Homo sapiens: one gene and its partners. The protein of the gene in region 3 purifies or fractionates together with the protein of the main gene of each other region. This does not show direct contact. Each region holds a gene or a part of one and is shown on either strand. Other genes may lie near its edges.

Evidence for each region. Proteins that work in one complex are often made in the same cells at the same time.
Region 1: the proteins of YKT6 (region 3) and CNN3 fractionate together in Homo sapiens (co-fractionation; one large-scale study listed by BioGRID). This does not show direct contact.
Region 2: the proteins of YKT6 (region 3) and FKBP3 fractionate together in Homo sapiens (co-fractionation; one large-scale study listed by BioGRID). This does not show direct contact.
Region 4: the proteins of YKT6 (region 3) and GOT1 fractionate together in Homo sapiens (co-fractionation; one large-scale study listed by BioGRID). This does not show direct contact.

The regions. Positions count from the first base shown.
Region 1 is NC_000001.11:94,896,457-94,899,783, reverse strand, and holds the end of CNN3 (calponin-3), read left to right. Parts: intron 1-266; coding exon 267-413; intron 414-1,700; coding exon 1,701-2,042; 3' UTR 2,043-2,827; downstream 2,828-3,327. UniProt on the Homo sapiens protein: Thin filament-associated protein that is implicated in the regulation and modulation of smooth muscle contraction. It is capable of binding to actin, calmodulin and tropomyosin. The interaction of calponin with actin inhibits the actomyosin Mg-ATPase activity.
Region 2 is NC_000014.9:45,127,982-45,131,481, reverse strand, and holds part of FKBP3 (peptidyl-prolyl cis-trans isomerase FKBP3), read left to right. Parts: intron 1-681; coding exon 682-783; intron 784-1,580; coding exon 1,581-1,688; intron 1,689-3,500. UniProt on the Homo sapiens protein: FK506- and rapamycin-binding proteins (FKBPs) constitute a family of receptors for the two immunosuppressants which inhibit T-cell proliferation by arresting two distinct cytoplasmic signal transmission pathways. PPIases accelerate the folding of proteins.
Region 3 is NC_000007.14:44,207,478-44,210,977, forward strand, and holds part of YKT6 (synaptobrevin homolog YKT6), read left to right. Parts: coding exon 1-15; intron 16-655; coding exon 656-721; intron 722-3,500. UniProt on the Homo sapiens protein: Vesicular soluble NSF attachment protein receptor (v-SNARE) mediating vesicle docking and fusion to a specific acceptor cellular compartment. Functions in endoplasmic reticulum to Golgi transport; as part of a SNARE complex composed of GOSR1, GOSR2 and STX5.
Region 4 is NC_000010.11:99,427,825-99,431,794, reverse strand, and holds the start of GOT1 (aspartate aminotransferase, cytoplasmic), read left to right. Parts: upstream 1-1,170; 5' UTR 1,171-1,229; coding exon 1,230-1,347; intron 1,348-3,970. UniProt on the Homo sapiens protein: Biosynthesis of L-glutamate from L-aspartate or L-cysteine. Important regulator of levels of glutamate, the major excitatory neurotransmitter of the vertebrate central nervous system. Acts as a scavenger of glutamate in brain neuroprotection.

The DNA.
Region 1 (3,327 bases), on a different chromosome or scaffold from region 3:
ATGACTTTTGGTGTGTCAGTCCACCTGTTAAAGTGTGTTTAATTCTTCTATGTATGAGTTTTTATCTATAGTGACTTTAAAATTTTCTTTTTAAAGTTAGCACTTGAAATTTGTTTGTAGACACATAGAAGAGTTGACTGGAGCCTCAGCTCAGTAACTTGTCGGTTGTGCCCCTTCTGTCTTTTTGGTAGCATGGAAAGTTTTGTTTGTGTTGTGTATATTGTTGACATCTGATAATTTGTGCAATTTTATTTTTAACTTAAAAGATGGGAACCAACAAATGTGCCAGCCAGGCAGGTATGACAGCTTACGGGACTAGGAGGCATCTTTATGATCCCAAAATGCAAACTGACAAACCTTTTGACCAGACCACAATTAGTCTGCAGATGGGCACTAATAAAGGAGCCAGCCAGGTAAGCAATACCTTTTTATACGTGTACAAGAGTACACTTACCTTATTTTTATTAACCAGAAGTTTAAAGTAGGTATTTTTTGTATAGTTTATTTAGAGTATATTCCTTCAGGAATGTGGACTTTGCTGGGAAAGCAAAATAATCAAAAGACCTTTTCGATAGCAGCAAAAGCATGATGTGTCTCGTGGTTTTTGTTGGCAGTTAGAACAGCTGGCCTTTCTACCTAGCCAGCAGAAAAAAAGATATGTTTATTACAGTGTTCTTGCTCCAAAATCCAAGTAAAATATTGCTCATTTAAATGCTGACTTTTTTTTTTAAGGAGCCCTTAATTAATAGGTAAAATTACCTGGTGTTCCACTAAGAAGGATTTAACTAGCATTCCTATTAGATGTGTCAATATAAGGAGATGGAAATGCAACATGGTGAAAATACCAGTATACCACATCCAAGATAGAAATATTTCCTTGTTAAAAATAGATCACCAGCACCTCAGAAGGAAGTTCAACAACCATTTGAGAACAGACAGGTCTCACATCCAACAACAGCTGGGATAGGGTTTGAAAAACATTTTCTTACCGAGTCCAAGGGAGATTTATCAAACTTTGCCCTTATGGAACACATCCTACCGGGTGCGGCATTATGTCTCTCATAGCTGCCACTCACGTTTACTTTTCTACCCACTCTGAACCTGGAAGTGTGTGCTTGATGTAAGTAGAGAGATGAAGTATGAGTTACTGTACTCTGAAAAAGAGGGGAGTGGCTGTGAAGTGGCTGGTTCTTCTGTATCTCAGCCTTTTGAAAAGACTCAAGTCCTTAAGATCTGCTCAACATAGTTTCTGTTGAATATATTATAAATTTTTGAAATTGGTAACCCAGATAATGTATGTGGTCCCCATGGGCATTCACATGGAACTTTCTGGTGTGGAAGCATTATGATTTCACATTCTTTATGTCTCATTCTCTCTTAAATCCAGAGTAGGTAGTAATGTCTCCATTTTGCAGTTTGAGAAACCTAAAGCTAAATTTACGTGTTTGAGGCCACATAGTAATTTTATAGCAGAGCAAGGATTTTGAAGAAAGGTCTCACCTAGCTCAAAAGCCAATGAATATTGCTTCATGGAAGTGATTCGGTATCAGGATATTTTGGTTAAGCTAGCTTTACCCCTGAACCAAATGAAAGTTCATGTATTACTGTTCATATTCAATGTGAATTCTATAATTTATAAATTATTCACAAGAATAGATTCTAGCTGCTGTTTTAACTTTTATACTATGTTCTAATACCAGGCAGGGATGTTAGCACCAGGTACCAGAAGAGACATCTATGATCAGAAGCTAACATTACAGCCGGTGGACAACTCGACAATTTCCCTACAGATGGGTACCAACAAAGTTGCTTCCCAGAAAGGAATGAGTGTGTATGGGCTTGGGCGGCAAGTATATGATCCCAAATACTGTGCTGCTCCTACAGAACCTGTCATTCACAACGGAAGCCAAGGAACAGGAACAAATGGTTCGGAAATCAGTGATAGTGATTATCAGGCAGAATACCCTGATGAGTATCATGGCGAGTACCAGGATGACTACCCCAGAGATTACCAATATAGCGACCAAGGCATTGATTATTAGATCCACACAGAAGGAGCTCAGTATTTAGTCCTTTGTTTTTATTCAGTGAGAACCAAGCTAGCCTTGAGTAATTTTTATCTTGTCTTCCTAAAACACTATTAAGCTTATTGTACTTTTAAGAAAAATTGCCTTACGTACATTCCTTTTTCCTTTTTCTGCCTCTTCCCTCAATAGTTGCCTTTTAGTGCTGTAATAGTTAAATCCTACAGCATAATCAATAACTCGCATATGAAGTAAAAAGGAATACTGTGAAAGGGGAGTACTCTTGTACAGCCAGTTCTTTTATGCAAAAATCTATGCATTTTTACAATCTTATATTAAACTGGTATTTTCAAACAATAGGAAACTTTTTTTTTTTTTTTTTTTTTTTACAGTTTAGTGTATCTGGTTTCTACATGGAAGACTAAACTCATGCTTATTGCTAAATGTGGTCTTTGCCAACTAAATTTAAGATGCAGCATTTTAGAAATTTACATATCAATGTTTCTACAGTATTGTTTGCTAATTTTTAAATAAAGTCATGATCAGTGTGCATTTGTGATTATATGTGTACTCATTCTCTTACCTAGCGAACAAGATCTTTTCAGAGTGGTGTTTCTAAAAGAGCATGTACAAAAGTGGCCTGTGGACATTTAGGCCTGGGTGATGCATTTGCTCTTCCTGTTTGTGCCAATGTATCAATGTAGAGTTGCTCTGTTTTCTTCAACTGTATTTATTGCTGCATTTCTCAGCATAAACTTATCCCATTGTATTTTTTATAAATAAATATTTTTTTTGAACTTTCATATGAACCACAGGCTGATTATTTTCTGGCTAGCTTCTAGATAGGTAGGGTCAGATTTTTTTTTAAGTACCTTTTTCCTAGGTACTGTTACAAGGTACATTAACATTTTATTTACTTCACACAACACTGCACTCTATGCTTAAGGAGATTGAGGCTTAGGAAACCATTACACATAGTAAATGACAGAATTCTAATCATTTTCTGACCCTTGCTTATTTCACTGACTTGGCTGGCCCAGATTCATCTTAAATTCAACTTGGAATAATCTTAAAATCTTTAGGAATATTGACAGGAGGGGTGGGGAATTTTCCTATCTTAGGGTAAGTAAACATGAATAAGAAACATGCTAGGTCAGCCATAGGATGTGCTGCTTGGTAATAAGCCAGGGTTTATAGTGAAACATAAACCTTCAGTCCTGACAGAGGGAAGGACAAACAATAGCTAGGTGTCATAGTGACAAAAATGCAGTCACTAAAAGAAAATTAGTAACTCACACTTTCC
Region 2 (3,500 bases), on a different chromosome or scaffold from region 3:
TTTTGTATTTTTAGTAGAGATGGGGTTTTGTCACGTTGGCCAGGCTGGTCTCAAACTCCTGACCTCAGGTGATCCGCCTGCCTCAGCCTCCCAAAATGCTGAGATTACAGGCATGAGCCACCGCGCCCGGCCCACACAGCTAGGATTTTAACCTAGATAATATGACTCCACAGCCCATATACTTAGCAATTATATATATAATGTTAAGCATAGCAATCTCAACATATGTATGTTACATGCTTGTGTAACAGTGACTCTTCCTAGTCGGCTAAGAATGGGTTACAAATGCCTCAGGATAGCTATGTCCAACCTGGCTGGAGGCTCTCAAGGGCTGCACCCAAGTATCCTCCTGCAGTGAGCAGCTGACTCAAGTCACCACAGTGTGCTTGCTGTATAAATGTTATTTTTTGTGAGTGTTGACAGGAAAAAGTTTAGGATGAAACACTGTGTTCAGTACATAACACTACAGTTGCAGTCTTGTCACTAATTCTTGTAAATACCGAATTTTTAAAAAATCTCTTACTTTTTTTGTAACAAAGAGTATAAACTATAGGCTTTATTTCTTCTTCAGTACTAGTACTACTGAAAACACAACTGCTAACATAAAAGGATCGTTTTCTAATTTTAGACACTTCTTACTCGGGAGAAGTTATCTTGATTACCCAGCTTTTTTCCTTATAGTTTCTTGCAGAACATAAATTATTAGGAAACATTAAAAATGTGGCCAAGACAGCTAACAAGGACCACTTGGTTACAGCCTATAACCATCTTTTTGAAACTAAGGTGAGTATTGTTAGATTCTGTTAGCAGAACATCACTTTTGAAATTTTATTTCCAAAAAAGATGTTTAAAATGCATTGATTTGTTGAATGTGTTGGAGCTTTTCCACCTGTAATTTTTCTGAACTGTTATCATAAGTGGACTAGCTGTCAAATCTAGCAAGGCTAATCTGCAGTATGGCAGAATGTTTCAGTATTTTCAAAGGGTCTGGATTTTGTAGCTTAAATTGAGACAACAAATTCTTAAGTCCACTGAAGTTATAAATTCATTAGGTCAGTGGTATTACCGTATTACTTTAGCATATGGTGTATATTAAATGTATTTTGTTGTTGTTTTATTATATATGTTAAATGTTATATTGAAAATAAGTTTCCATTTCACTAATGAATTTAAAGTCTGGTTTAGATTTAGGCTGAGCTTTACAAAAATACATTTTAAGACATTCTCCCACATTTGTTTACTATGAAATGAATATCTTCCACAGGAAAGAAATCTTTATTTAGGAGTTATTTGAATAGTGCTTATATCTCTGGGTATGAGTTGGCCTTTCTAAGGTCATGGTTCTCATTTCAGAATTTATATTGTAAGCTGGTTTGAGGGTAATCATTTATTGTTTAAAAATAAATTATGAGCAAAATTCTTTCTTTGCTCTTCGTTTCCTTAGACCATTTATTCACAATTGTGTTATACAACCTATATTTATTATGCAGATGTTCATTTAATTGAGAGGCTGAAAATCTTGATGTTGCTTCTTGGTTTTAGCCTGTCCTGGGTATGATGTTACAACATTTTCCTTACAGCGTTTTAAGGGTACTGAAAGTATAAGTAAAGTGTCTGAGCAAGTAAAAAATGTGAAGCTTAATGAAGATAAACCCAAAGAAACCAAGTCTGAAGAGACCCTGGATGAGGTCTGTATATAATTATTTTTTTATTTTATCATGTGGAGTCTAGAAATTGTATTTATTTCTTTATTATTTGCACTAACTTCTCATAGTGAAGGGTGGTTGAATACGACCACTTTCAATGAGCCAAACACTTAATGTAGTGGGCCATTTCCCTTAGGTGTACTGGGACAGAAATAATCCTAAGAACTAGTGCTTTACAGTTATTAGCCTATTCTGTGAAACACTTCTGATATTGTATTTAATATCGCCTCCACATCTGTCCAGACCTTCTGAGCTTTCAAAGCTATTTTAAGGCCTTGATTCTATAGCCAAGTTGGACTAAGTGAAATACATTTTCTTTTGATTATTTTTAGCTTTTTCTAATGTACATGGTGTCCCTGGCAATAGAAATAATCCAGGCTTGGCTGCAGGATGTGGGTTCATCTGTCTCAGTTTTCCCAACTCAGGTTTTATACTTTGGTACAAAGGTTTGAAGAACCAGATTAATTCATTCCTGCAAATTGACAGCCTTAGTAGAGCTAAGATCAGCTACTAAGAACTGACTTAGCAGAGCTGAATTGATTATAATCTTGTCATTTCTGATAATACCTTACTATCTAAGCTCACTCATTGCCAGCAGTCTTAGTATCAGTGATAATAATCTATTTTTAGTTCTTGTAAAGAGGTGAGGCTATTGATGACAGTGTAGCTTTTGGGTATTTGTGGAAAGTGTAAGTTCAGTTATACAATTATAGATGTTTATTTGATTAAAGCTAGTTAATTTTGCATGATCTTTTCCTATTGGCTAAAAAGCACAAATTAATGTTTATAGGTATATGTGCACACAAAGCAGTTTTAAAGTTTATCACAATTAATATTTAATAAATGTTATATCTATTGAGTAGCTACTAAGGTAAATGGAGCAATTATTATTGAAGGGTTTCAGAAGCAACTGGCAACATAGTTCACCCTCCAGGAAATTAGAATGAGGATGGTTTTAGGAGACAGATAATATTTCATTAAGGAGTTAAGAAAATAAAAGGTAAATTCATAAGAGCTAGAGACAATCTAGAGCAAGCTTATGAGGGTCCTAAACTCTATCATTTTATTTAAAACCTCTTCGTTTAACTGGCCAGCTTGAGCCCATTTATGTACTGTGACTGTTTTCCTAGCGTCCTACATTCAAAAGCCTCTTGTCCATTTCCTTGCTAACCCTCGTTGTCTACTCTCTGTCTTCATGCTTTGGGACTGGAGAGCAGGCATTATAAACATATAATCATAAAACCTTTTATTGAGCCTGGTATAAATTCATGCTTAATATTAGCCAAGCATGTTTTCTAGTTTCATTGCTACTCAACAACATTTATACTATCCTTTGCCCAGTTCTCCATCACATTGCTCATTGCTCACATAAAGTATTTGACATTTTCTCACAAATTCTCAGTCCCTTCTTACTCCTTTCTCTTTTTTTGTTTTTGTTTTTGTCTTTGAGACAAAGTCTCACCCAGGCTGGAGTGCAGTGGTGCCATCTTGGTTCACAGCAACCTCCCCCTCCTGGGTTCAAGTGATTCTCCTGCCTCAGCCTCCCCAGTAGCTGGGACTCCAGGCAGGCGCCACCATGCCCAGCTGATTTTTGTATTTTTAATAGAGACGCAGTTTCTCCATGTTGGCTGGGCTGGTCTTGAACTCCTGACCTCAAGTTATCCGCCCACCTAGGCCTTCCAAAGTGTTGGGATTACAGGCGTGAGCCACTGCCCCTGGACTCCCTTCTCATTATATGCTCCTGTGTTCTGTAGTGCCAAAATGTGAATGTCTAGCCATTGCCATTCCCTTCTT
Region 3 (3,500 bases):
CTCAGTAGATACCAGGTAGGGTTAAAGGAAGCTTCAGCAGACACCATGTGGCCCAGAATCCATGTGAAACTGAAAAAGCCAACTGCCCTGATAGTTCTGGTCTAATTACTTCTGACAGCTTCTGATGCTGGTGTCCTCTCTCAAGCCTTACTGTTTGGAAAACAGAGAATCTACGTTCAGACCGGGGAACCCAAGCTCTAGGCAGGCTTTGGGTTTCTGTTACATGTTAAACAGGCTGTGGGTTTTTTTTTTTGTTTTTTGTTTTTTGAGTTGGAGTCTCACTCTGTTTCCCAGGCTGGAGTGCAGTGGCGCAATCTCGGCTCACTCAACCTGCACCTCCTGGGTTCAAGCGATTCTCCTGCCTCAGCCTCCCGAGTAGCTGGGATTACAGGCATGTGCCACCACGCCTGGCTAATTTTTGTATTTTTAGTAGAGACGGTTTCACCATGTTGGTCAGGCTGGTCTCGAACTCTTGATCTCTGGTGATCCACCCGCCTCATCCTCCCAAAATGCTGGGATTACAGGCGTGAGCCACTGTGCCCGGCCCAGGCTGTGGTTTTTAACCTGTGAAAGTTTGTCCAGCTTCCTCAGTTTTAGGTTTTGTTTGCAGGTAGCCACTCCAGTCCTGACTTTATTATTTTTCACTCTTTCCTAGAACCCACGAGAAGCTGATCCCATGACTAAAGTGCAGGCCGAACTAGATGAGACCAAAATCATTCTGGTAAGCAGGAAGATGGAGAGCAAGCCCAAGAACTGAGGCGGGGGTGCGATTTCCACTGGCCAGGCATGCACAGATCCATCCTCGTTTTAATATAATAGTAACCACGGCACTCTCCAGCAAGTGGGATTGCCCACCCCTTCCCCCACCCCGGGCATCAGACTGTCTTTCCTATACCCTTCTCTTGGTTAATGGCACCCATTGTTTCTAGGGGACCAAGCTGGGAACCAGTGGAACCCTCAAGTCTCCCTTCCTCATGGCTACTGCCTGTCTGACCATTTACTGGGTTCCTAGGGTTTGGCTTCTGAAGACCTGGATTCCCACCCTGGTGCCTTTGTTAGGGTTTCGGGTGCCTCCACACCCCACAGGTGCCTCCCCTTGCAGCGTTTGCATTGAAGGTGAACAGATTGAAGCACCGTGCACTGACCACAGGGCAGCTTCTGGAATATGGGCCCAGGGTTGTCACATAGGCCCCTTTGAAAAGAGCCAGAACCCTGCATTTTGAGCTGAAATCTCCTGATTTGTAACTGTTGCTTCAACTCTTTTTTTTTAAATTTTTGCATACAAGTGGAATGTAAGCAGCTATCTGTTTTTCTCAGGTTTTTCTCTTACAGCCTTTGCCTCTAAGTGGTCCCCTTGCCTCCTGCTCACCTCCAGTCTGTCCACCAGAGAGTAGTCATTGATCTGCACAACTTAGAACCCTTCAGCAGCTCTCAGATCCGCCCCAGGATAAAGTGCAAACTAACTCACAGTCTCCTGACTGGGCCCTGTTCTCTCTTATACCCTTTCTTGCCCAGCTCACACACAGGCGCCTGAAGGTTGGGCCTTTCTGACCAGATGTCACAGTTTTGTCACTGCTTGTTTACATGTCTCCCTGACCAGCGTATGAGCACTGGGACATCTTTCCATCCTGCTCATGATACAGTGCCTAGTTTATACCATGCTCAGCAGTTGATAGATACCTGGAGTGGATTGAAACCCACATACAAAGCTTTACCATTTACACAGGCATAGCTTTAGTGTGTACATCAGCGTCTCCTGGGGTTGGAGTTGTTGGCCTGCGATGGAGCCTGGGAACCTGCATTTTATAAAAAGCATCCCAGGGGCTTCAAACACAGGTGTGCTGACTGCACTCCAAATAACGTGGCTTTGGAATGAACGATAGATGTGAAAGTCTCATGGTATCTGTGTCTTTTGAAACCTTGTGAGCTTTCTTACCACCTAGGTGGCATTTCTCCGTTTTCTCCTCAAGCCATCTCTTTCTGTTGCTCAAGTCCTAGTCTGAGTACCATGACACCTGGGACACCCGCTGTTTCTCCTCTCCCCACGGTGGGGAGTGGATGAGTCCTATTCACCCAGCCTCATCTAGCTGCAGTTGTAAAATCTAGATGATTGGTGTGCATATCTGAATCAGTTAACTTTCTGTGTTAAAAATTTGAGTCGCTCAGCTGTGTGTAGGGATGAAGGACATTCTTGCTGGCTCCTTGTTCTATGGCGCTTCATGTGTGCATCTAGCTGCTGCAGCAGTGGCCATCTGAGGAGAGAAGCGAGCTGCTGCTTCCTGAGGGCCCTGGCAGCAGAGCTGCTGGCTCTTGTGAGGTCTCCATCTCTAGACCCCTTCCCATGGGGTCAGTGTTTTCATTTCCTAAGTCAGAGTTTGTAGTGATGACATTTAGGACATAGCCCATTTAGAAGGCAGGACATGTTCTGTCATAGTGCTGTCTGGTATATATTTGGGGCATGTGTGTAACTTAGAATTTTCTAGGAGCCATATTTTAAAATGATAAAAGGAAAATAGGTAGAATTTAATTTAATTATATATTTTACTTAACGCAGTATATCCAAATACAATTTTTCCAACATGTAATCGGTATAAAACTTGTTTTTTTTTCAGTATAAAACTTACTAATGAAGCATGTGTGAGTTTGCATCTGAAATCTGGTGTGTCTGTACTCAGAGCGCTGCTCAGTTTGGACTTGCCTCACATCAAGTGCTCAATAGCCATTTCCCACCGCCTTTTGTTTCCTGTGGCTGCTGTCAACAGAAACCCTCAAATATTTGCTTTTAACAGATAGCTCTGTGGGCCTGGCTGGTGTCTTTTGGGGCTCTGAGTGTCTGTCCCAGGCCTCTCTCCAGCCTCTGGTGGCTGCTGGCCATCCTTGGCATTCCTTGGATTAGAGGTGCATCACTTCAGGCTCTGCCTCTGCCGTCACGTGACCTTCTGTGTGTGTGTTTCCGTTTCTTACCAGGACATCAGTCATGGAATTAGATGCCACCCTAATCCAGTATTACCTCTTCCTAACTAGTTACATCTGCCAAGACCCTATTTCTAAATATGGTCACATTCAGAGATTCTGGGGATGTTAATTTCTGGGATGCGGTTGGGGTTGGGGGGTGCGGTGTGGGTCACTCTCCAACCCAGTACAATCATATAGTGCCCAGCTACTCTTTTTTCCAAAGCTCCATGCACACGCACATGTGCGTGCACACACACACACACACACAAATGTATATATAAATGTGTGTGTATATATATATATGAGTTTTCCTGGAGTGCTGGTTATCTAAGCCTGTGCTGGGGACAGCTTTTTGGGAAGTCTGCTACATCCCAGTTAGATCTTCTAGATTTCACGGGAATGTCACCAGGTTCTGTTCCATCCACTTGGACAGTAACTATTCTTGGACCGAGTCTCGACACCTAGAGGTGAAGTTTGTGTGTGTTGGAGAGGAACCCAGGTAAGGCACTTTCCCCCATGACTGAAATATGAGGGGCTCATGTCAG
Region 4 (3,970 bases), on a different chromosome or scaffold from region 3:
TCACAAACTCCCCACACCAACTCTGAGGAAAATACTATTATTTCCACAGAGCAGGAACTTCCACAGAGAGGTTAAAATAACTTGACTAAACCTGCCCAAATTCGTAAGCGGCAGCCAGAATCTAAACCTAGATAGTCCGGTCCCGGAGATAGGTTTTTAACCACAAAGGCATTTTCTAAAATTGTGAAAGTACAGAAGCACAGGAAAGAGACATTTTGGCCAGATAAGGGTTAAGGGAAGGCTTCATGGATGAAGTGGCATTCGCTCTGGGTCTTGAAGGTCAGCAGATGGAGAGGGCTCCTGGGGAGGAAGGACTCTAACGGGGAAGGAACAGCCTGACGAAGAGGAACTTTGGGTACCAGCCAGCTGACGACAGCAAGATCTGGTCCGGTGCGCGCGGGAGGAAGCTGGGAAGGGACGTCGCGCCCAGATCCCGAGGTCCTTGAGGACCAGGCCCTCTCTGCAAGGAATCGGGGAGGAAAATCTCAAACTATTAATAGAAGAGCGGCAAAAAGGAATTCGTGCGCACCCCTCTCTGTTGGAAGGACCTTCCCTGCCAGAGACCAAGGCTGGCAGGACAGGTATACTTCCCTCAGGGGGAAACAGCCGACAAAGGTGGTCAAGGTCGCCCGCGCAGGCTCCGGAGCTGCACGTCCTGGACGAACACTCCCGTCCCGAGCACAGACGCTGGGTATTTGGCTGCCAGCCCGGGCCCGCCAGGCCGGGCCTGGCACCGCCAACACCTGCTCGGCGGGAACAGGAAGACCTGTGTTCGGGAACTCCCTCCGGCCACCTCCCCGTATCCTCCTGGCCCTCGAAGGTCGAAAGGTGGCCTCTCAGGGACACCCGCCGCTCGCTCGGCTCCTCCCCTCAGCCGGGAGACCCAAGGAATAACAGCCTCTGCGATAGGAGCACGCTCTACCAATCAACCGTAGTCTTCGCCCACGCCTCAGCCGGAGGAAATTGCATTGGTTGCATCATTCTCGGCAGCCGATAAATTGTTTTCTTGGATTGGCTAATAGCGTTCCTTCTCCCCTGTGCCTTCGTCGTCAGAAGCTGGCGATTGGTTAATCGCGTTGCCAAGCTTTGGACGCGGCTCGACCATTGGAGGCCGCGGGCCCGCCCCCGCCGGCTAGGTGAAGGTGAGTGTCTCCTCCAGTCGCAACGGCCAGACCTGACCTGCCAGCTCCGGGCGTGGGGTGAAATCTCTTGATTCCTAGTCTCTCGATATGGCACCTCCGTCAGTCTTTGCCGAGGTTCCGCAGGCCCAGCCTGTCCTGGTCTTCAAGCTCACTGCCGACTTCAGGGAGGATCCGGACCCCCGCAAGGTCAACCTGGGAGTGGGAGGTAAGGATGTAGTGCTCTGGAGTGTGAGCAGCTCGGGGAGTGGAGCGGACCCAACCCAGGTCGTGGAGACTGTGGGAGAAGCCGAGGCCCAGTGTGGCGCTGCCTGAAGAGGGCGGCGCCGGAGAGGAGGCTGGATCCACGAAGGCTTCCTAAAACCTGCCCATTTTACAGATGCAGGTGTGGAGTCCCTGGAAAGGGGCGATGTGTCCGAGGCCGCACAAACCAGGTGTAGCAGCCAAGACACAAACTCAGTCTTTCCGATTCCCCATTCTGCCTTCTTTATACTGCATCCTCCTAAGAAATGAGGCTGCCGGAGCTTGTAGAGAGAGGTAGAAAAATAGGAAGCCTGATAGGCTTAGGGTTCTGGTTGCTAGGAAATGGGTAAAGGAGAACTTTTAACGCTAGAAAGCTCTGTTCTGAGTCGGTAAATATTTGAGTGACCACCGAGTATCAATCAGCCACCTTATTAAGCTTTGTAGGGGGAGACTGAGGCTTGATTTTGCCCTTAAGGATTTAAAAATCTGCTGGTGTTACACAATGCTTTGAGACAGGTTAATGCTGCCCCCGGGGGGTCTGGGGAGATGGTTCTGGCCGTCACAGATGTGGTAGGAATGGGTAGAGATGGTGGAAAGGAGTGGAGAGAAGTATGGATGGTAGAAGCTTACTTTCCACACATCCTATCTTCATTTCTTGATTCAAGTGATTCTCTTCTGTACCTTGGACAGCTCAGAGCATGGGCCTCAGTTTCCCCATCTGCCAAGAAGATTTATATTGGAGTGCCTCTCAAATTTTTTACCCCTAACCCTCTCTGATGAATTTGTTATTCTTCTCACTATCATTTGGATGTTTGAAGCCCCACAGACACTTATTTTCTCCATTTGGATTTTGCCACGTGCAAAGACCAGCCAGAGAGATGAAAATGGGTAGGATAAAGTCTTATGCTAGGTAATAGACTTAGAATAAAAGGACTAGAAATTGTGGAAAGAGAAGGTGGAATCATTTTGTAGCAGAGTGTGACATGAAGGACGCTCAGAATCAGGTTTCTCATAGATAACGTTTTGTCTGTGCATAGCATTTGTTAAAAAAAAAAAAAAAAAGTCGGCCGGGCGCGGTGGCTCAGGCCTGTAATCCCAGCACTTTGGGAGGCTGAGACGGGCGGATCACGAGGTCAGGAGATGAGACCATCGTGGCTAACACGGTGAAACCCCATCTCTACTAAAAATACAAAAAAGTATCCGGGCGTGGTGTTGGCCGCCTATAGTCCCAGGTACTCGGGAGGCTGAGGCAGAAGAATTGCTTAAACCCGGGAGACGGAGGTTGCAGTGAGCCGAGATCGTGCCATTGCACTCCAGGCTGGGCGACAGAGCGAGACTCTTTCTCAAAAAAAAAAAAAAGTCTTCACTAAGGAGTATGGGGAGGGGTAAGGAAAAATCCATTGAAAAGTGATGGTTTGTTGAAGCGGGTAATTTGTTGAAGCTGGATGATGGGTACATGGGCATACGTTATATTATTCTCTCAGCTTTTGTATAGGTTTGAAATTTTTCATCATAAAGCTTTTAAGATAAGTCAGTACTACATAGTTTGGCCCATTGAGGGAAAATGATGTTTTTAGCAGGCAACTGAGTGGGAGAAATGTTGAAAGATTGCCTCAAATTGAATTTGAATGGACACCATTTGGTCTCTTAATTTAAAACCAGTCCAAAACCTCCAAGCGTTTCTTTGCAGCGGGATGTATACAAAGAACTAGTATTACTGTCAATCTAAATACATCTTTTTAAAACGTCAGATTTTGCCTGCCACGGTGGCTCACGCCTGTAATCCCAGCACTTTGGGAGGCCAAGGCAGGTGGATCACCTGAGGTCAGGAGTTCGAGACCAGCCTGGCTAACATGGTGAAACCCCATCTTTACTAAAAATACAAAAATTAGCCAGACGTGGTGGTGCACACTGGTAGTCACAGCTACTTGGGAGGCTGAAGCAGGAGAATCGCTTGAACCTGGGAGGTGGCGGTTGCAGTGAGCCAAGATCACGCCATTGTACTCCAGCCTGGGTAACAGAGTGAGACTCCGTCTCAAGAAAGAAAGAAAAAAAAAAACAAAAAACCACGTCAGATTTATTTTATTAATTCAATTTACCTTTGAACTATCTTACAGGGTTTCTGTGAGGATTAAGTACATTTAAAGTGTTTATAGCTGTATTTGGCACATAAGTAGGATTTATATAAGTGTTAGGTATTACTGTTATTGTTGTTTTGGCATTTCTTTGAGTGATTCTCATAAAAGATATTGAATAAAAATTTTCAGTTCAAGAACTGCAAAATGAACTAATTTATGACCTTGGTTCAGAAATAAACTGCTCCTGCAGAGAAAAAGCACCCCGACAGCACAGGCCAGAAGCAATGGACTCAGAATTGGAGTCATTGACTCAGACGGCCACCTCAGCTGTGAAGGTGCCTTTGTCATGTTTTCCAGGAACTCCAACTCCTTACCATGAGCAAATTATTTATGCATGTAATCTCACTGAATGCTCACAACTCTGGAGGGTGGTTTATTACTATTACTGTTTAGAGGCAAGGAAGCCGAAGACTGGAGAGGTGAAGCAATTTGCCCCAGGTCATTTGACCA